Linked DNA regions of Homo sapiens. The protein of the gene in region 1 interacts with the protein of each later gene in a pairwise test. Each region holds a gene or a part of one and is shown in the gene's direction. Other genes may lie near its edges.

Region 1 (7,209 bases):
TTTTCATCCAGTTGAAAATATTTGACATGTTTTGAGACTTCCTCATTAACCCAATGAATATTTAGAGATGTGTTCTTTTTTTTCTTCAACTTCTAAGTTCAGGGGTACATGTGCAGGGTGTGCAGGTTTGTCGCACAGGTAAACGTGTGCCATGGTGGCTTGCTGCACAAACCATCTCATCATCTCAGTATTAAGCCCAGCATTTCTTCCTGATGTTCTTCCCCCACACCCCTATCACCCCCCAACAGACAGGCCCCAGTGAGTATTGTTCCCCCCAATGTGTCCTCGTGTTTTCGTCATTCAGCTCCCACTTATAAGTGAAAACATGCGGTATTTGGTTTTCTCTTCCTGCATTAGTTTGCTGAGGATTATGGCTTCCAAATCCATCTATGTCCCTGCAAAGGACATGATCTCATTCTTTTTGATGACTGCAGAGTATTCTATGGTGTACATGCACCACGTTTTCCTTATCCAGTCTATCATTGATGGGCATTCAGGTTGATTCCATGTCTTTGCTATTACGAATGAACATATGCATGCATGTTATCTTTATAGTAAAATGATTTCTGTTCCTTTGGGTATATACCCAGTAATGTGATTGCTGGGTCAGATGGTATTTCTGCAGAGGTCTAGGTCTTTGAGGAATCACCACACTGTCTTCCACAATGGTTGAGCTAATTTACACTCCCACTAGCAGTGTCAAAGCATTCCTTTTTCTCTGCAACCTCTCCAGCATCTGTTATTTTTTAACTTTTTAATAATAGCCGTTCTGACTGGCCTGAGATGGTATCTCATTGTGGTTTTGATTTGCATTTCTCTAATGATCAGTGGTGTTGAGCTTTTCTTCATGTTGTTGGCTGCATGTATGTGTTCTTTTGAGAAGTGCCTATTCATGTCCTTTGCCTGCTTTTTAATCGGGTTACTTTTTTTCTTATAAATTTGTTTAAGTTCCTTGTAGACTCTGGACATTAGACCTTTGTCAGATGGATAGATTGTGAAAATTTTCTCCCATTCTGTAGGTTGTGTGTTCACTCTGATGATAGTTCCTTTTGTTGTGCAGAAGCTCTGCAGTTTAATTAGACCCCATTTGTCAATTTTTCCTTTTGGTGTTTTCGTCATAAAATCTTTGCCCGTGACTGTATCCTGAATGATATTGCCTAGATTTTCTTCTAGGGTTTTCATAGTTTTTCATTTTACATTTAAGTCTTTAATCCATCTTGAGTTAATTTTTATATATATTGTAAAGAAGGGGTCCAGTTTCAGTTTTCTGCATATGGCTAGCCAGTTTTCCCAGCATCGTTTATTAAATAGGGACTCTTTCCCCCCATCACTTCTTTTTGTTTGTTGAAGATCAGATGGTTGCTGGTGTGCAGTCTTATTTCTGAGTTCTCTATTTTGTTCCGTTGATCTATGTGTCTGTTCTTGTACCAGTATCATGCATGTGTTCTTTAATTCTGCAATAATTTGATGGTTTTTCAGATATCCTCCAATTAATTGATTTCTGGTTTAATTCTGTTTTCATGTAAAAACACACTCTGTATGGTTTCTACTGATTTTAAATAGTTGAGGTTTATTTTGTAGCTCAGAATATGGTATGTACTGGTGAATGTTCCACATACCCTTATATAAAAAGTATGTTCTGCTGTTGAGTGGAACATTTCTATAAATGTCTATTAGGTCTTGATAGTGTTTTGCGGGTCTTTTATGTTCTTCCTGATTTTCTATTTATGTGTCCCATTAATTACCGAGAGTGGATTATTGAAGTCTTCAGCTCTGATTATGGATTTATTTTTTTCAGTTTCCGCTCCTTTATTTCGAAGCTCTATTGCGTACACACTTAGGATTGTTATGTTCATGGGATGACCTATATCATTATGTAATGCTCCTGTTTATCCTTCATAATATTCTTTGCTCTGAAGTCCACTTCGTCTGATATTAGTATAGTTTCTGCAGCTGTATTTTAGTTATTGATTTATGGTATATCTTTCCCCAAACTTTTATTTTCAGCCTACTTATGTCTTTATATCAATATTTAAAATGCGTTTCTTATATACAGTATATACATGGGACTTGCATTTTATTCAGTCCTAGTCATTTCTGTCTTTTAATTTATGTGTTAGACCACCCCTTTTAATGTTATTATTTGTGTAATTGGATTAAAATGTACCATATTGGCAACCGTTTTCTGTTTGTTTCATTTTTGGGTTTCAGTTTTCTTTTGATGCCTTCTCTAGTATTAACTGAGTGTTTTTTATGATTCTGTTCTATTTCCTCTACTGACTTATTATTTATACTTTTAAAAAATTGTATTTATCTACCTTCAGATAATATTACATTGCTTTACATGGAGCCTATAGACTTTACTGCAGTTTATACACAGCTCCTTCTTTCCGTGCTTTATGCTATTGTGGCCATACCTTTTTACATTTACATCTACTGTGAACGCACAGTACATTGTTTTACACATTCAGGTATCTTTTAGAGCAATTAAAAAATAAGAAAAAAAATTGTGTCCCCATTTATTCTATTTTCACTGCTCTTTGTTTGTTTGTGTAGATCCGGGCCTCCATCTGATGTTGTGTTCCTTCTGCCTGAGGAACTTCCGTTTAACATTTATTGTCCACTAGGTCAAGCAGCTGGCAATGAATCCCCTCAGTTTTTGTTTTTCTAAGAAAGTCTGTATTTCTCTTTCATCTTTGAAAATTATTTTCAATGGGCATAGAATTCTGGATTTAACAGTTTTCTTGATATTGTTACCATATTTTTTATTTGCACCATTTTCATTGGATTCTTTTTAATAGTTGTCAGCACTCAGCTGAAAGTCCCATCTGTTATTGTCTACCTTTCCCTTTAGAGCCTTCAAAATATGAACCATAGTTATTTTAAATTCTCAGTCATTTCTAACATAGGTGTCATATCTGACTGTGGTTCTGATTATTGCTTTGTCTCTCTGAAGTATGTTTTTTTCTTGCCTTCTTGTATGCCTTGTAATTTTGTGTTGAAAGCTGTACATCTTGTGTAAGACAGTAGAGACCCATGGAAATTGTTTGTATCCTAGAAATGTGCATGCCTCTCCTTCCTAGAGGCCTTTAGTGTGGGAGTTAGAGTTTATCTAGTTAGGAGTTTGCTAGGTTTGAGAGATTTGTTGGCAGCTATCCTCACTGCAGGAAAGGCTTCATGTTCCTGTAGAGATACCTTGTGTTTTGGCTGGGGGTTGGATCACAAGAACATCACCTGTTCAGTTCTAGTTTTAGGTCTTCCTTTTGCACTATGCCTCAGAAAGGGTCTCTCTGCACATTCTTGTTCTCCTGTTTCTCTCCAAGCACTGTTTTGTTACCTGTAATGCTAAGCTCCTTAGCTTGACATTGTGGGGCAAGGAGGAGGATGGGGTGCTGTCTCTGTTCCGATTGAGTTACAGTCTCGTACCTGCACCATTTTCTTAGGTTTCTGGGCTGTGACCTTCTCAGTTCTCCTCCCTCTCCCCCAAGTGTTGTGGGAGTTTCTGTGTAATCCTGTCCCTCCCCAAGGAGACAGGTTGTATGTGTATGTTTTTCCTGTTCCCTTTCCACACTGCAGTGAGTTTTCAGCAGTGTCCTAAGGACAACAGTGCGTGCCGCCCTTCTCCTCACAGGATAGGTCTTTTGTTTTCCTGGTGGAGACAGGGGAGATGGATCCAGGTGTAGTTCCTTGCCACTCCTCTAGAGTTACTGCTTCTCTCCCCCATATCTGGAACACAGCGGACACTTCTTACCCCACCCTCCTGTGAGCACCTGGGTGATGGTCATGGCATAGATCCTGTGTGAGAATGTAACCCTCAGAGGTTTCACACAATCTTGGCAGCCCACTCTTGACTCTAACCAGATACTTGAGCGGGACTCCCCTGACTGGGGTTCTGTTGTGTCTGCCCTCGGTGACACAAGCTTGTGTCTCCTTAGATTTTGGGCTGTTGATTATCTGGGACCTCGGCTTATTGATGGGTTTGGAAAAAGTTAATAAGTTTAAAGTTAGGCTGTACGTGTGTGTGTGTGTGTGCGCGCGCGCGTGCACGTGCACGCTTGTGTGTGTGTTTAACGTAAACAGGTCCCATCCTTGTTAGACTTTACAGCAAGAGCAGCCTTGAATGAAATCATCCTTTCTCTCCAGTAACTTATTCTCCCAGTCATTCAGTTCTCTTTAGTCTTTTTACAAATTTTACTTCTTTAAAGAAGATGCGTCTCCAAAAAAAAAAAATACCTAATTTGCTACTGATGTGGCAAATTCAAGTCAAATTGAGGATGACTCGAATTTTACAATGCCAAACAATCCTGATGGCCAACTGTCTTATTCTTCCCCAGGGCCTTCTCCTCAGCCAGGGCGGAGGCTCGTTGTGGGCAGGGTCCTTGTCTTTTATAATCCTCGCAGAGTTGCCAAACCTATAAAAAATTTTTAAAATAGGCAAGGTAGAGAAGTAGCTGAGGTGCAGGAGTCTGGGTATTTACCCAGAAATCACACATTCTGTCTCCAGCATAGGCCCCTAGAGCCAGTCAATACTTTGGTATTATTTTATTTCATTACTTATTTTACAGCATAATAGTAGAACCCTAAAAGCAAAAGCCTTATGAAATCACATGCTAACAGAACCTAAATGCATGTTTCATCTTAGAGTTTTTTAATTATAAAAGTAGCACACGTTTGTGATAAATAATGTAAAATGTCAAGTTCTTTTCATCCCCTAGAAATAATCACCCTCCAATCTTTTCTATGGGTCTTCTAAGGCTTTTCTCTAAACTCATTTTTGTCATATACAAAGAAAAAGTAAAAAATTAATATCTAGGCCATTTGGGAAAGGCAGCCTATTGCTTGTTGCTCTGTTTACATGTTTGTCTCTTTTCAAAAAAATACCTGTAAGTGCAGAATGTATCACAGCTAAACTGTACATTGTCTAATGTCATCTTTATTATATCTCAGTGACATTCCTCCCCCATAACTAAATTTTATTAAGCTTTCAGTGGGAAAGAGCCTCTAATTTGCAAGATTTTGAAAATGTGAAGAGTTTAAAAGTTCCACATGAGCTTATGAGATTTTTGAAACTATTTCCTGGATCATCTTGAAGATTCCTTGTTAAACTCAGTTTCACATGATGTTAAGAGGCTGATACTAACGACTTTTAGATAATATCCCCCTTTCTATGAGGAATGGGTTGAATCATATCACAGAAGAAATTGACAGGAAATTGTAGCATCTCTCTGAGTAAATAAGAAGGCTTACACATTAGGTGAATATGACGACACGGAGGACCATTGAAACATGCCTGTGTCAACCAAAAGAAGAAGCTAAAGCACAAAGTGTGGTTGAAAGAGTTGACTTGAGCCAGAATAAGGACAGCTGCCCAGATGACTCACCCAAACTGCTTGCTTGGCCTTTGTTACAGGCAGATTTTTAAAGGCAAAAAGAAAAAAACAAAAACAAAAAAACAGGAGGCAGGGGAGGGGGGCCGGTGTTACCGAGTAGACTGTTAGACAGTTCTGTCAGGAATTCTCATGGATATACAGAAGTAACAGTGATTAGTGACTGCCTGTCCACGGTTAAGCTATAGAATGTGGGATATAGTGTCCAGTGCCACATTACTAGGTTAATTCACAGCTACCTGTGGCAATGGGAAGCAGCTTCAGTAAAGTGTGGAGTAGGATGTGATTGCTGTCTCATCTTAATGCCTCTTTGGGGCCTAGTAATTTGAAAGGGCCCACATTCCTCAGATAAAAGTCCTTTTCTTTCCTCATCTATAATACTATTCAAATCTAAAGAAAATGTATGTTGCTCACAGATACCAACAGCCATCAGTTTTTTGTGTTTGATTTAATTTGTTCAGTAAAAGGAAGATACAAAATAGGGAAAAAGCTCAGGAAAAGAGTTGCGTTGAACTCTTTATTAATTTTATATGTAGTTCAGTTGTGTTTTAAAGATTTTCAAGTGCAATCTTAGAGGCCTTCATTTCCTTGTTTCTTGATTACCCTCCACCTGCCTCATTCCCCTTCTGAGAGTCATTTCCCATTCCTCGTCCCTGACCCCGGCCCCTCCCGCAGAGCTGCCCTCCTCTGAATCCTGATGGCCAACTGTCTTATTCTTCCCCAGGGCCTTCTCAGCCAGGGCGGAGGCTCGTTGTGGGCAGGGTCCTTGTCTTTTATAATCCTTGCAGAGTTGCCAAACGTATAAAAAATTTTTAAAATAGCACTTGTGCACTTGGAAAGCATTCCATCACATACCTCTTGGTTGTTTTTATTAGATGAAAAACAGAGATTCAGTTATGAGCGATCTGGATATGATCTTGAAGAATCTGATGGCCCAGATGAGGATGACAATGAAAATGAAGACGATGATGAGGACAGCCAGGCTGAATCAGTCCTGTCAGCCACACCCTCAGTCACAGCTAGCCCGCAGCACCTTCCATCTAGAAGTAGCCTTCAGGACCCTGTGAGTACTGACGAGGATGTCAGGATCACCGATTGCTTTTCTGGGGTACACACGGACCCAATGGACGTTCTGCCCAGGGCGCTGCTCACCAGAATGACTGTCCTGAGCACAGCACAGTCTGACTACAATAGGAAGACACTCTCTCCGGGGAAGGCCAGGCAGCGTGCTGCGAGAGATGAAAACGACACAATTCCGTCTGTAGACACTTCCAGGTCCCCGTGTCATCAGATGTCTGTGGACTACCCTGAGTCAGAAGAAATTCTGAGAAGTTCTATGGCAGGAAAAGCTGTTGCTATAACACAGGTAAATGATTGGCAGTTGTTCTTTTATTTCTTTTTTCGTTTTAACCTATTAAATATGGAGAACTTAATGGCTTAAGAAAATAATGCACTTAAGTGATTTTTTTAGGCCAAATCAGTTTGTATAGCTTTATTTTTTTCTTGTATTTAAGGGTAGAGGGTATTTTTGCCCTTTGGAGTCTTGTTGAGTATCTTAAGCAGTTCAGATATTTTATTGTAAATCTATGAAAGAACCAAATGGTTCTTGAAAAATACACCCATTTATTTTTATTTGCTTTTTGAAAAATTTTTGAAATTAAAAAAAAAAAAAAACGTGACAGTGGCGAACACAAGTCCCGCAACTGATTTATCTGCTGGCCCCTTCTGAGCAGTTTCTCCACTGGTGCTGATGTGATGATGGATTTTCACTGACTTACCCAAACATTTTGCACTTTGCCCCCATTGGCAAGACAGCTACCAG
Region 2 (8,185 bases), on another chromosome or scaffold:
AAACTAAAAGAGAGTCAGTGGAAGAGCTCTCCCGGCAACTTTTTTTTTTTTTTTTTTTTTTTTGTGAGACAGTGTCTCCCTCTGTTGCCCAGGCTGGAGTGCAGTGGCTCGATCTCAGCTCATTGCAACCTCTGTCTCCCAGGTTCAAGTGATTCTCCTGCCTCAGCCTCCCAAGTAGCTGGGACTACAGGCGCCCGCCACCACACCCGGCAACTTTTTGTATTTTTAGTAGAGACAGGGTTTCACCATCTTGGCCAGGCTAGTCTCGAACTCCTGACCTCAAGTGATCTGCCCACCTTGGCCTTCCAAAGTGTTGGGATTACAGGCGTGAACCACCGTGCCCGGCCAAATTTCTCTTTCTTCTTTTTTTGAGACAGAGTCTCACTCTGTCACTCAGGCTGGAGTGCAGTGGCGCAATCTCGGCTCACTGCAACCTCCGCTGCCCAGGATCAGGGGATTCTCCTGCCTCAGCCTCCCGAGTAACTGGAATTACAGGCACCTGCCACCGCGCCTTGCTGATTTTTGTATTTTTAGTAGAGATGGGGTTTCACCCTATTAGTCAGGCTGGTCTTGAACTCCTGACCTCATGATCCACCCGCCTCGGCCTCCCAAAGTGCCAGGATTACAGGCGTGAACCACAGCGCCCGGCTAACTATCTCTTAAGAGCAGAGTTCAACCCCAGATTTGGCTAGGACTAACATGTCTTTCGTTAGGAACAATAATTCTAGGTTGACAAGGTTAACTGCAGAGCCAGGGAGAGACTTCTGTGATGTAGCTTTTCAAAAAGATTTAAATTCATTATATTACAGTGTGGTATCAGACTCACAGGCCACAACTCATGTGTAGCCTTGGAAAGATAAGAAGGTATAAAGAAAACCAAACCTTTCCCTGCAATAAATTATGTATCCTGTCCCCAATCTCATGAGGAGGGAAAAAAGTTTTCTACTTGATCTTTATGGGCCTTCACGCAGCTAAATGAACTAAACAATACATAAATTCTGTATTCCTAAGTTAGTCAAACGACTTTATCTCAGTAAAGGAAACTTTTTTCCCCTCAAAAAGGCACCAGCATTCAAAGAATCAATCCTGACCCACAATGGGAACCCTACCCAAAACTAAAAAGCTTTGGCTGTAATCAGACCACTCTAGAATATACCTTATTTAACCAGCATTTGGCTTCTCTCTCTCTTTTGAAATTAGTAACTATTATTATAAAAAACCCGCCAGGCACGGTGGCTCACGTCTATAATCCCAGCACTTTGGGAGCCCAAGGCGGGTAGATCATGAAGTCATGAGTTCGAAATCAGCTTGACCAACATGGTGAAACCCAGTTTCTACGAAAAATACAAAAATTAGCCAGGCATGGTGGCGCTCACCTGTAATCCCAGCTACTCAGGAGGCTGAGGCAGGAAAATCGCTTGATCCTGGGAGGCGGTAGTTACAGTGAGCCGAGACTGTGCCACTGCACTCTAGCCTGGGTGACAGAGCAAGATTCCATCTCAAAAAACAGACAAACTGAAACAAAACAAAAAAAAAACTGGCAAATCAAAGCACCACCATGATTTCTTAAGAAAAGCCCAGGCAGAGGCCGGGTGCGGTGGCTCACACCTGTAATCCCAGCACTTTGGGAGGCCGAGGCGGGCAGATCACGAGGTCAGGAGATCGAGATCATCCTGGATAACACAGTGAAACCCCCTCTCCAGTAAAAATACAAAAAATTAGCCGGGCGTGGTGGCAGGTGCCTGTAGTCCTAGCTACTCAGGAGGCTGAGGCAGGAGAATGGCGTGAACCCAGGAGGCAGAGGTTGCAGTGAGCCGACATCACGCCACTGCACTCCAGCCTAGGCAACAGAGCGAGACTCCGTCACAAAAAAAAAAAAAAAAAAAAAGGAAGAAAAGTAAAGTCCAGGCAGAACATTATTTTTATAATACAAAAGGCTTCATTTCTCACAAGCTAGCCTCGTTCACTTATCTGTATCCTCTTATTTCACCCTGACACCCTATGCTTTTAGCAAGGTCTTCTCACTCCCATTTCACAAATGAGGAAACAGGCTTAGAGGAGCTAAATGTTAACTGGTCACACAGCTACTTAAGTGGAGAGCTGGGATATGAACCCTAACCCCTCCACAATCTGGCCCCTCTTGCAGTTCTCCTCACACAGCCCCCTCCTGTAAAGCACCTCTGTATGATAACTTCCCTTGCTTTACAAATATTAGCCTCGTTCTCACAGCATCTCTTACAAAATGGCAAAGTAACCTATGGAAAGACCTTGTAACTTGCCACCAAAGTATTATATCTGTGGGGTAGGCAGCTAAAAACAAAGAAGCAGCTTGCTTTTTATCATACCCAATTGAGATGTTTCAGTTTTTGAAACTTTTAGAAAAATCTACTCAATGCCACCTCTAGGACGCAAAGCTTTACCCTCTGCTCCTGAATGTGAAAGTCAAGAGAATAGAGGACATTCTTTGTCAAGTATTCATTTTAATCTTCCACAGAATTTAATTCTTACCCTCTGGTCTCTGAATTGTTAAATATTAAATTGTTAAAAGATTACTGTCTTACAGAGAACAGAACAGCCTGAGCAATGATCCTCATAATCCTTCAAAATAAAATGTGGCAGAAGAAAGTGTGATATGTATCCAATTAAACCGAACATATGGCTTATAGCAAAAAAGAGGCTTTGACTCAACGGTTTAACCTCAATACAAATAACTAAATTTTAATAAAGCTAAACAACGTTTTAGAAATTTTGTTTTTTTTTCAAACAGGAAACCAAGCCTTTAAATTCTCAACCCTTAAACATTCTTTTCTAAACTGGGGTGAAATCAATTATTTCAGAGTGTAAATATTCACAATTTTCTATTTTTTGCTAGGCCAACAGTTGGCATTTATTGAGCTTTTGTTTTTTGATCCCAGGGTGGATACTTTGTTTACGAATATAGTGAAGCACTCACTTGTCATACAGACCTGGATTCTGTGATTTTGCCACCTATCCCATATGTGACAGTGGGTAGTTTAACCTCACGTGTTTTCCTAACAATACACTGGGCATAAACACCTATTTTGAAAGGCTGTTGCAAGAACGAGTAATGAATGTAAAGCTTTTAGCACATTGTCTGACACATGGTAAGCCTTCAGGGTCAAGCTATCGATTTCCCAGAGAAAGGTGGCATTTTCTTAGTATTCATCAAATAGAATGTCTTAATACTACACTGTGTTAGCATATTAATGTTTATAACGGACTAAAGCATTCTACGAAAGCAGCAGGTCATCAGAATAAAATCAAGTTTTCATAACAGTAGAATTCAAACATGGCAGTTGTGGTTCACCAAACTGCTTCAGGGATTAAGTTCTGGAAGGTAATTTCTCTAAATATGATGACTATGTCTCTATGTGCCTTTCTACCAAGTGAACAACTCAGAACGTTTTACATACAACCGAATACAGATTATTTTTATTTGTAGTGTTATCGTGGTTTTGTAACTGAAGGGGACAGGTCTATACTTTTGAAGGGGATCTTGTCTCTTGAAAGGCTTATGTTACTAAGTCTAAAATCCTGTTTCCAAATGAGAATCTTGCTCCCCTCCAAAAAGGGGCTTATGGAGGGTTGGTGGAATTGAATGCTTCCAAACTTTACATTAGTGAAGTGTGTTCAAAAACGTGTGTGGATGCTATGCATACACGTGATACTTCCCATCACATTTTAGGATTCCCACGTTGGAGGGAATCAATTACTGGTATTTGTAGCAATGGGTGGAAAAGATGGCTTCAGTCGATCTGAGTTACTGCAGTTTTCTCCATCTTCTGCTACTCTGCAGCCCCATCTTAGCCTGTCCTCCTCTTAATGGTACGGCCCCCTGTACTCCCCCAAACCCTTTCCTTTCTAGCCCGGCGTAGAGTCTCCCTCTGTGCTCTTCCTCCCACCCACCCCCATCTTCTCCACCCACTCCCTCTCGGCCCCCTCCCACCCTTTCTGCTAGAGCTACAAACACTTCCTATTTCTAGTCCCACCCACTTTCTGGGACTTCTCAATCCGCTTCCCCCCTCTTCTCCACCCCCCTCCAAATTACAAGCTGTTTTAACCCCTTTTCCTGCCTCCCAGGGAAACTATTCTTTAAACCGCCTTCCTCCACACCACCCACTGGAGTGGTCTTCCAAACCGTTCACCCTCTTCCCAAAGATTACTCTTTAAACGTCCTTTCTCTACCACCCTCGTTCTCCAAATTGTTCCCGGTTCTCAAGTACTCCACTCCTCCAGGACCCCACCCCACTCGTCTCTCGGCTTCCCTCCCACAAAAGAACCTGGAATGACTCTCCAACCACCCTTCCAATTACCTCTCCCAGAAGCCTCCCCCCTCCACGATTACAAATGTTACCTGGAACAAAACCTCACGGTCCTAACCCCCACCCCGAACTCCCCTTTCTGCTCTTCCCGCTACTTCCTAGGTTCCAGTTCTACTCCGCTCCCGCAAGCATAGCGGGCTGGGCTCCCTCCCAACCCCGGGAAGAGCCCCTTCCCGCACGTACCTCGAGATTCCGGCCCTCGCCGCCCCCTTCTCCGTCCTCCGCCCGCGCTCGGCCACCCTTTCCGCCCTTCTCCCGCTCCGCCCCGCTCGCTCCCTTCCTTCCCTCCGCCTTCCGTCTCCACACCGCTCCCTTCCCCCACACTCCTGGCCCTCCCACCCCGGAGGCCCCTCCGGGCTTGCCCCCACCTCCGCGCCGCCCTCCCGCCGCCCTCCCCCTTCCCGGCCACCCCTCCCCCGCCCGCGCTCCCCGCCCCTCGGCTCGCCATTCTTCTCTCCGAGCCGCGCGCCCCGCCCGGCCCCGGCTCCCTAGCTTCCCGCTCCCTCGCGCCCTCGCCCCCAATCCCGGCTCGGCCCTCGCTCCCCGCAGCCTCCCGTGCCCCCCGCCCGCGGCCTGACCTGCAATGGCGGCCGCCGAGCGCGGCGCCGCGCGGCCAACGGGCGACAACCGAACCTCCCGCCGCCGTCGCCGCCGCCGCGAGCACTGCCTGCGCACTTCCGACTATGCGCCAGGAGCACTTCCGGGGCAGAGCCTGAGAGCGCGCGCGCACGTGGGGCCGGGGCGGAGAGAGGCGAGCACCGGGAAGGGGAGCGTGGGGCCGCTGGTGAGTTGGGGAAGGGGCGTGGGAAGCGGCTGCGAGAGCTGGGGGGGTCTTACAAGGTGGCCGGCCCAGGGTCGGCGTCCGGCTGAGCTCCTTGTCCCGAGGGTCTCCTTGTCCCGAGGCGGGGTGGGGGCTACTCTGTAGACTCGGGGAGAGGGAAGGGGAGGCGAAGACCGCGCGCGCCTCAGACGCCCCGGCCCGACCGAACGCGCTTGCTCTGTCTGCGGGTTCCTAACCTTGAAGCTAGGCCAGTGAGGGGCGAACAAGACCTGGTCTCTACTCTCGGCCAGTATATATGTTGGCGGGCGTCGGGGGGACGGGGTAGGGTAAGTGACAGACGTCAGACCAGGCAGCCAGATTAAGTCAAACCCTGTCGTTTCTTCCTCAAGAGGAGCTCGGTTCTGCCTGCCCCATCAGCCTCACTGTCACTACCTCAGTTTAGGTCTGTTGTTTGCAAACTTAGCAATAGAGTTGAGGAGAGATGCTTGCTAAAATGCGGATTCCTAGGCGCCCCGAGATAGGAACTCTGGAGCTATGGAGTAGGACCCTTTTTGATTTTTTGCTGAAGCCTCCTTATTATTCAAGCCATTCTGAGCTTTTGAAGATTGAGTAATTCTTGTGGGGGGCATTGTTAGCAGCCATTTGGAAATGAACTTCAGGGAGATGTTGTTGGAGCCTTCCAGCCAGAACAGTGATATTAAGGAACTGAATACTATATGTGACATACTGCAGTTAACATATAGCAATAATGACTCTCTTTTCGCCCCCTAGGAATGGGTGAATTTAAGGTCCATCGAGTACGTTTCTTTAATTATGTTCCATCAGGAATCCGCTGTGTGGCTTACAATAACCAGTCAAACAGATTGGCTGTTTCACGAACAGATGGCACTGTGGAAATTTATAACTTGTCAGCAAACTACTTTCAGGAGAAAGTAAGTCATTTGGGAGTCTGATATGGTGTTTTGATGTTAATTTCTTCTGAAGTTCAAGAAGCTTGTATGTCTTTTATAATCAAACTGATTGAGTGACTTCCTAGCCCCTCTGAAGTTGCTTAGAACTACCAAACTTCTGAGATCTCCTAACTGATAAGAGAAGCTCAGTTTCAATCTGTGTAATGTTGATTAGAAGGGTCCTACCTAGAAATGTGACATCTCACTGCCTGTCATTGGAAACTGAGGTTTGCTGGATCTTTTGGACACAGGAAGGGAAATTGTTGGTATATCAGTCTCAACACCATTGCAGCTTTGGTAAGCAAAATTTCCTGCAGGGAGTATCAGTACTGTTTCATTGTCAATTCAGAAAAAATGATAACACGTTTTAATATCAGAAACTTTTTGGTGATGTGGGAAGATGGATTCCAAAGTTCATCTGTCTGAGAGAATGTAGACCTACATGTCTACATTTGGGAGTAAAGGAGATTTAAAATTAGGTAAAATGTCCTTTGGGTGTATGCAGAGGTCTATTAGTCCTTTTTCTTCTCCCCTCCAAGGGCACTGACTAGTGATTTTCTTCGGGTGCAACATCTTAGTTCATGTTGAATGACTGTTATGTACTGGGTGCTGTGATATAAATGAGTAGATGGGCAAATGAGTGAATTCAGTGCCCAGCAGCCTGGTACCTGGAATTTAGGCATTCTGTAAATGTTTCTCGGTGAATGAGTGGCAAATACTGGGCACTAAGACAAATGTCAGAGGCCCTAACTTTACGGAGCTCAAAGACCAGTGGGAGAAAGATAAGTGTACAGTTTCCAACCTGTAAAATAAATATGATAAACCGAAACACAGGCATAGAACCTTCATTGAATTGCCTTCAGGGAAGGCAATTCAGAGAATTGCCTTCCCTGAGAGGTGGGTTTAGGAAATGTGGAAAGGGATGATTTACTGAGCTCACCCCTGAAGAACTAATCAAAAGGTAAAAACTACAGGACCACCACAAATGGGTTACATTCTGTGGTATGAAGAACATGCGCTGGCGTGTGCTTATTGCATCCTGTGATTTTCTTTTTTTTTCTTTTTCTTTTTTTTTTTTTTTTTGGAGACGGAGTCTTGCTCTGTCACCCAGGCTGGAGTGCAGTGGCGTGATCTTGGCTCACTGCAACCTCTGCCTCCCTCTCCTGCCTCAGCCTTCCAAGTCGCTGGGATTACAGGTGTGCCACCATGCCTCGCTAATTTTTTTATTTTCATAGAGACGAGGTTTCACCATGTTGGCCAGCCTGGTCTCGAACTCCTGACCTCAAGTGATCTGCCCACCTCAGCCTCCCAAAGTGCTGGGATTACAGGTGTGAGCCCTCATACCAGACTGATTATCTTTTTCTTGGTCTTGTTCTTCTTCTTTTTTTTTTTTTTTAACAGTCATGGCCATATTATGATTTTTCTGTTTGTCATTTGTAACAGTTATAACTATATAATTTGTGTGTTTGTTTAATGTCTTTCTTCCATGCTGAACTTCCAATTTTATGAGGATAGGAACCATGTCAGTGATACTCACATCTGCATTCCCACCATTTATCAAGCGCCTCCTACAAAGCCACTGCTTAATGTTTCTTGAATGGATAAGTCAACCATTCCTTACCTAGTGTTCCTTATTTTCTTTTCTCCTTCATCTGTTTTCTTTATTCTTCAACAATTAATTAACTCAGGCTGGTTTCCTGCTTTCCCTATATTCCCTTTCCTACTAGATACGATTGCTTAGCTCTGTCAGTGACTCTCAGAGCAAGAAAAAATTAGTACGTTAAAGTGAAAAGAGGCAGGGCAGAGTGGCTCACACCTGTAAACCCAGCGCTTTGGGAAGCCAGGGCAGGTGGATCACTTGAGCCCAGGAGTGTAAGACCACCCTGGGCAACATAGTGAGACCCCATCCCTAAAAAAATAAATAAATAAATTAGATAGGTGTGGTGTTGTATGCCCATAGTTCCAGCTACTTGGAGGGTTGAGGCGGAAGGATCGCTTGAGCTCAGGAGGTTGAGGCTACATTGAGCCAAGATCGTGCCACTGCACTCCAGTCTGGGTGACAAAATGAGACCCTGTGTCAAAAAAAATAAATAAATAAAAGTGGGCCTGAT
Region 3 (7,209 bases), on another chromosome or scaffold:
AAGTGAGTCCTCTGTCCGCGGCCAACATGTCTATAGCTGTGTAAGTGCCCCTAATCCCTGGGATGCTACCCTGGCTCCTGAACGTCCACACTATCCCAGGCACAGATTTGGGAAGCAGTGGGGGTGGTCCTTGACAGAACTGAGCTTTAGGAAGAGACACTTCTTGTCCTTCCACCCACTTTCACTCAATAAATATTTGGTTAGCAGCTGTTATGTACCCAGCACTGTTCTAACTTCTGGGGATACAGCATTAACAAGGAGGAAAAAAAAAATCCCACCTGTGTGTAGCCATTCTAGCAAGGGAAGGAGTCAATAAATTAGATAAATAAGTAAATTATATATTGTGTTAGAAGGCGATGGAACTACAGAGAAAGTAGGGGAGGGAAATAGCAAATGCTGGGAGTGAAGAGAGTTGTGATTTTAAACGAAGTTGTCAGGGAAGGCATCACCTAGAATAGGGGTCCCCAGTCCCGGGGCTGTGGACTGGTACCAGGCCGAGGCCTATTAGGAACGGGGCTGCACAGCAGGAGGTGAACAGTGAGCAAGCAAGCATTACCGCCTGAGCTCCACCTGCCGTCAGATCAGCAGGCAGCATTAGATTCTCATAGGAACACAAACACTATTGTGAACGGTGCATCTGAGGGATCTAGGTTGCGTGCTCCTTTTAAGAATCGAATGCCTGATGATCTCAGGTGAAACAGTTTCATCCCAAAACCACCCCCCACACCTAGGTCTGTGGAAAAACTGTCTTCCACAAAACTGGCCCCTGGTGCCAAAAAGGTTGGGGACTGCTCACCTAGAAGGTTACATGGCCTGAAGGAGGTGAGGGAGGAGCCACTGGGGGGCCTGGGGAAGGGCATCCCAGGCAGAGGGAACAGCATAGGCAATGGCCCTGAGGCAGGAACATGCCTGATGTGAAGGAGGCCTGTGTGACTAGAATCGAATAGTAAGTGTGAGGAGGTGAAGGCAAGGAGGTGACAAGCAGATTACACAGGGCCTTCTGGGTCAGGGGGGAGGACTTGGGCTTTTGCCCCTAGCCAGGTGGGAGCCATGGAGGGTTCTTGAGCAGAGGAGGCTGGGACCTGACTCAGATGCTCACAGACTCCTAGCATTCAGTGGGGAGTAGAGGGTGGAGAGCAGGAGTGGGAGGCTGAGATGTGGGTTGGTTCGCCTGGGTCATCCATCCAAGCTACAGTGCCTAGCAATGCTCTAAGTCCTGTGACCATGCCACTGCAGGAAAGAGCAACAGAAGAATCAAAAGCCAGCCAAGTCCGTGTGGGAGCAGCGGACCAGTGAGATGCGAAAGCAGAACTTGCTGGCCAGCCGGGAGGCCCTGTATAACGAAATGGACCCGGACGAGCGCTGGAAGGCTGCCTACACGCGGCACCTGCGGCCAGACATGAAGACGCACTTGGACCGGCCGCTGGTGGTGGACCCGCAGGAGAACCGCAACAACAACACCAACAAGAGCCGGGCGGCCGAGCCCACCGTGGACCAGCGCCTCGGCCAGCAGCGCGCCGAGGACTTCCTCAGGAAACAGGCCCGCTACCACGATCGGGCCCGGGACCCCAGCGGCTCGGCGGGCCTGGACGCACGGAGGCCCTGGGCGGGAAGCCAGGAGGCCGAGCTGAGCCGGGAGGGACCCTACGGCCGCGAGTCGGACCACCACGCCCGGGAGGGCAGCCTGGAGCAACCCGGGTTCTGGGAGGGCGAGGCCGAGCGAGGCAAGGCCGGGGACCCCCACCGGAGGCACGTGCACCGGCAGGGGGGCAGCAGGGAGAGCCGCAGCGGGTCCCCGCGCACGGGCGCGGACGGGGAGCATCGACGTCATCGCGCGCACCGCAGGCCCGGGGAGGAGGGTCCGGAGGACAAGGCGGAGCGGAGGGCGCGGCACCGCGAGGGCAGCCGGCCGGCCCGGGGCGGCGAGGGCGAGGGCGAGGGCCCCGACGGGGGCGAGCGCAGGAGAAGGCACCGGCATGGCGCTCCAGCCACGTACGAGGGGGACGCGCGGAGGGAGGACAAGGAGCGGAGGCATCGGAGGAGGAAGTAAGTGGAGGTGACCTCGAATCCGCAGAATGACGGTAACATTAATAATGACAACAGCCAAAGTAGCACGTGCTGTGTATTTGTTTATAAAAATATATTATAAAATGCTGTATTTGGCCAGGCGCAGTGGCTCACGCCTGTAATCCCAGCACTTTGGGAGGCCGAGGCGGATGGATCACGAGGTCAGGAGTTCAAGACCAGCCTGGCCAAGATGGTGAAACCCCACCTCTAATAAAAATACAAAAATTAGCCGGGCACGGTGGCAGGCGCCTGTAGCCCCAGCTACTCAGGAGGCTGAGGCAGGAGAATCGCCTGAAAACAGGGGGCGGAGGTTGCAATGAGCCGAGATCACACCACCGCACTCCAGCCTGGGCGACAGAGTGAGACTCTGTCTCAAAAAAAAAAAAAAAGTGCTGTATTTGGCCAGGAGCAGTGGCTCATGCCTGTAATCCCAGCACTTTGAGAGGCCGAGGCGGGCGGATCACTTGAGGTCAGGAGTTGGAGAACAGGCTGGCCAACATAGTGAAACCCCGTCTCTACTAAAAATACAAAAATTAGTGGTGGTGCCCACCTGTATTCCCACTACTCAGGAGGCTGAGGCGGGAGAATCAGTTGAACCTGGGAGGTGGAGGTAGGTTGCAGTGAGCTGAGATCGTGCCATCACACTCCAGCCTGGGCAACAGAGCAAGACTCTGTCTCAAAAAAAAAAAAATGCTGTATGTTTTTGTTTTTTTGACACAGGGTCTCGCCTGTTGCCCAGGCTGGAGTGCAGTGGCAGTCATAGCTCAGTGCAGCCTCTACCTCCCGGGCTCAAGCCATCCGCCTCAGCCTCACAAGTAGCTGGGACCACAGACATGTGCCACATGCCTGGCTAATTTTTGTAGAGACAGTGTTTTGTAGAGACAGGGTTTCACTGTGTTTCCCAGGCTGGTCTCAAACTCCTGAACTCAAGCATTCCGCCTGCCTTAGCCTCCCTAAAGTGCTGGGACTACAGGGTTGAGCCACCACACTCAGCCTAATTTTTTTACCTTTAGTAGAAATGAGGCCTGGCTCTGTTGCCCAGGCTGGTCCCCAACTCCTGGCCTCAAGCAATCATCCCACCTCAGTCTCCCAAAGTGTTCGGATTAGAGGCTTCACAGATGGGGAAACTGAGAGATTGAGTGAGCTCCTCAAGGTCATTCCTCTAACCAGTGTCCTTGAACCCAGGCTCTCTGGCACCAGAGGCCTTGAGCATTTCAGGGAAACTATTAAGAGAAGCCCCACTGTCGTCCAGAATTATATAGTCTTCTGTGTTCTTGCTGTGTGACTTTTGCAAAGTGACTTCATATCTCTGGGCCTCACACAATGGAAATAGTGGGATCTAATTGGGTCATTGCCAGGATTGAATGAGGTAATGTATGCAAAGGGCCTGGAAGAGCAGCTGACACATAATAAGTGCTCGGTAAATTTAGAGCATTTTTGGCCATTTTCAGCCAACTCTATTTACCTAATGCTATTCTTTGGAAGTTTGAAAAGCCACTCTGTTGGGAGGCCAAGGTGGGAGGATCACTTGATACCAGGAGTTGGAGACCAGTCTGGGCAATAGAGGCAGACCCCATCTCTATAAAATATAAAAAATTAAACAGATGTGGTGGCATGCACCTGCAGTCCCAACTACTTGGGAGGCTGAGGCAGGAGGGTCACTGGAGCCCAGGATGTCTAGGCTATGATGAGCTATGATTGCACCACTGCACTTCAGCCTGGGCGACAGAGCAAGGCTTTGTCTCAAAAAATAAAATAAAAAATAAAGAAAAAGAAAAGGCACTTTGGGCCGTTAGAATTGAAGGGAGAGCAGAGTTTCAAAGCTTTGGATGCAGCGGGATGTGGTGGCTCATGCCTGTAGTCCCAGCACTTTGGGAGGCCAAGGTGGGAGGATCCACTTGAGCCCCGGAGTTCAAGACCAGCCTGCGCAACATAGTGAGACCTCACCTTTTAAAAATAAATAAAAATGTTAGAAAGCTTTTGAGGCATCTTCCAGGCCAGCAACTTATCCATTCAGAACCAGCATCCTCTTTTTCATAACGACATTTTGTAATACTTTCTAGCAGATGCTATAGTGATTCTGCATATAGGGACTCAACAACTTACCCATTAAAATAGACATCGTAGACATTGTCCTATTACAAATTAACCTGCTCTTAGTCCTCTTTTATATTACCATCAGGGCATAATATTGATTTTTTTAATGATGGGTTTAAGTGATCCTGTTGTATGACATATGAGGTAGGCCAGCACTTCTCAAAATCTAATGTGTATGTGAATCCCCAGGGATCTTGTTAAAACACAAATTGTAATTCCGTAGGGCTAAGGACTCAGTGGAGCCTGAGATTCTGCATTTGCAACGAGCTCCCAGATGAGGCTGATACTACTGGTCCAGGGACCACATTTTGAGTAATGAGACTCTGGAGGACATAGTGAAGTAATTCTGATATGTACACCATACACAAAATCACCATGAAGTGACAGGCACAAATGATGGCTAACTCTGGGTTGTGTGGACAATTCAAACCACATGAGGGGAGTTGCCAGCAGTGTCAAGATGTTCCACAATGTTGAACACCTCTTGGCAAAGTTCCATATACAAAAGAGTCTAGTCTTTCTTCCATTTATTTAATAGTTGCATTGCAGGAAAATGCAATGTATATTAAAAACATACAAAAAATATGTTGTGTTCTTATGTAAAAGAGTTAGGTTTAAACTAAAAGCACAGGATCAGGTGCAGTGGCTCCCACCTGTAATCCCAGTGCATTGGGAGGCTGAGGAAGGAGAATCGCTTGAGGCCAGGAGTTCGAGACCAACCTGGGCGACATAAGGAGACCTCGATCTCTACAAAAGAAGTTTTTTAATTAGCCAGGTGTGGCGGCAGGTGCCTGTAGTTCTAGCTACTTGGAAGGCTGAAGCAGGAGGATTGCTTGAGCCCAGGAGTTCAAGATTACAGTGAGCTATGATTATGCCATTGCATTCCAACCTGGGCAACAGAACAAGTCCTTGTCTCAAAAAAAAAAAAAAGAAAGAAAGAAAGAAAAAACCCAAACAAACAAGCAAACTAAAAGCACAGGTAATTACAAGCAAGATTTTTCACCTCTTTGAGGGACATTAGAAAGTCATGAAGAGGAAAAGATAAGTCTTTCCCATATGGGACTGTCATGTACATGGTAGGGTATTTAGTATAACTGCCTACCATTCTCTAAGTGCCTGCAGTGCCCCTCAATCATTATGTTATTAGGTTTCCACGTAGTTCTACAACAGTTTTCTGAAAACCATTGTTCTAGGTCATTCTTTCGCTTCAATCTTCTCCTATGGGTTTATGCATTCATTCAGTTAGTATTTACTAAGTGCCTACTATATTCTAAGCTCATGCTGTGAGTTCAGTCACACAACTGCAAGTGAAGTGGTCTGAGACATTCTGAGAAATACGACCAAGAAACTGCTCCCAGGGTCTCAGGGCAGGTTTCCAGAGGAGCAATCTGAGAAGGGAGTAGAGTGTTTCAGTCTAACAACAGCATGTGCAAAGGCCCTGGGGTGGACCAGAAGGAGGCCAGTTTGCAGGACATGACTAGTGACGAGAAAGTGACAAAGAAATTGAAGGTGCATTGATGAGACTCTGGGGCTGTCAGTCACTCAGGGGAATGAGAGATCAAAACGGGAGTTTAGGTGGAATAAAGTGTTTACCACAGCACTCTCTGTATAGTAAAGACCAATGAAGAGCCAGGTACAGGCCAGTGTGATGGTTCACGCCTGTAATCCCAGCACTTTGGGAGGCAGAGACAGGTGGATCACCTGAGGTCAGGGGTTCAGAACCAGCTTGGCCAACATGGCAAAACCCTGTCTCTACTAAAAATACAAAAAATTAGCCAGGCGTGGTGGTGGACGCCTATAATCCCAGCTACTCAGGAGGCTGAGGCACAAGAATTGTCCTGCGAGGCAGAGGTTACAGTGAGCTGAGATCACACCACTGCACTCCAGCCTGGGCAACAGAACAAGACTCTGTCTCAAAAAAAAAAAAAAAAAAAAAAAGCCAGGTACAGTGGTATGCACCTGTAATCCCAGCTACTCAGGAGGCTGAGGCAAAGGATTGCTTGAGCCCAGGAGTTCGAGACCAGCCTGAGCATTTAGAGAATGGGAGGCCAGTATACTAAATACCCTACCATGTACAAGACAGTCTCATATGGAAAAGAATTATCCTTTCCTCTTCATGACTTTCTAGTGCTCCTCACACAGGTGAAAAATCTTGCTTATAATTATCTGTGCCTTTAGTTTGTTGGTTTATTTAGGGTTTTGTTTGTTTTTTTTTTTTTTTTGAGGCAGGGTCTTGCTCTGTTGCCCAGGTTGGATTGCAGTAGCATTGCTCATTTTAGAGATGAGCAAGACCTCATGTCTAAAAAAAAAAGAAAGACCAATGATTATTAATTACTCTTGCTATTATTACTAATATTACTGTTATTATCAGCCTTATTAACAGATCTACTGTTATTGAAGGAGGCAGAGTGACAGGGACAAAATGTCTCTCCCTAACAATATGCCAGGAAGAGTTTTTGAAAGACAACAGTAAACATTGGAAACTACAAGAGCAGCAAAGCCTGGTTGTGAAAGGCAAGGACTTTGGGGCAGGCAGTCACATTCCTGCCCTATCACTTCCAGGCTGTGTGACTTTCAGAATTTCACTCCTCTCTGGGCCTCCATTTCCTCATCTATAAAATGAAGATAAGAATAGTAGCTACCTCCTTCTCTGGGTATAAGATTTAACTGAGCCGGGCGCGGTGGCTCATGCCTGTAATCCCAGCACTTTGGGAGGCCGAGGTGAGCGGATCACAAGGTCATGAGTTCAAGACCATCCTGGCTAATATGGTGAAACCCCATCTCTACTAAAAATACCAAAAAAAAAAAAAATTAGCCGGGCGTAGGTGGTGCACGCCTGTAGTCCCAGCTACTCGGGAGGCTGAGGTAGGAGAATGGTGTAAAACCCGGGAGGCGGAGCTTGCAGTGAGCCGAGATCGCACCACTGCACTCCAGCCGGGGAGACAGAGCGAGACTCCATCTCAAAAAAAAAAAAAAAAAAAAAAAAGATTTAACTGAGTTAGTACGTGTAAAATGCTTTGAGTGGTTCCTGGCTTATACCAAGAG

What was found. The genes of interacting proteins can lie anywhere in the genome.
Region 2: the proteins of HIVEP1 (region 1) and UTP4 interact in binary tests that used the Homo sapiens proteins (3 or more experiments, as listed by UniProt).
Region 3: the proteins of HIVEP1 (region 1) and CACNA1A interact in a two-hybrid assay, tested with the Homo sapiens proteins (one study listed by BioGRID and IntAct).

What each region holds. Positions count from the first base shown.
Region 1 is NC_000006.12:12,155,177-12,162,385, forward strand, and holds part of HIVEP1 (zinc finger protein 40), read left to right. Parts: intron 1-6,262; coding exon 6,263-6,753; intron 6,754-7,209.
Region 2 is NC_000016.10:69,127,563-69,135,747, forward strand, and holds the start of UTP4 (U3 small nucleolar RNA-associated protein 4 homolog), read left to right. Parts: upstream 1-5,086; 5' UTR 5,087-5,127; intron 5,128-5,895; 5' UTR 5,896-5,897; coding exon 5,898-6,056; intron 6,057-8,185. UniProt on the Homo sapiens protein: Ribosome biogenesis factor. Involved in nucleolar processing of pre-18S ribosomal RNA. Part of the small subunit (SSU) processome, first precursor of the small eukaryotic ribosomal subunit.
Region 3 is NC_000019.10:13,293,381-13,300,589, reverse strand, and holds part of CACNA1A (voltage-dependent P/Q-type calcium channel subunit alpha-1A), read left to right. Parts: coding exon 1-40; intron 41-1,236; coding exon 1,237-2,046; intron 2,047-7,209.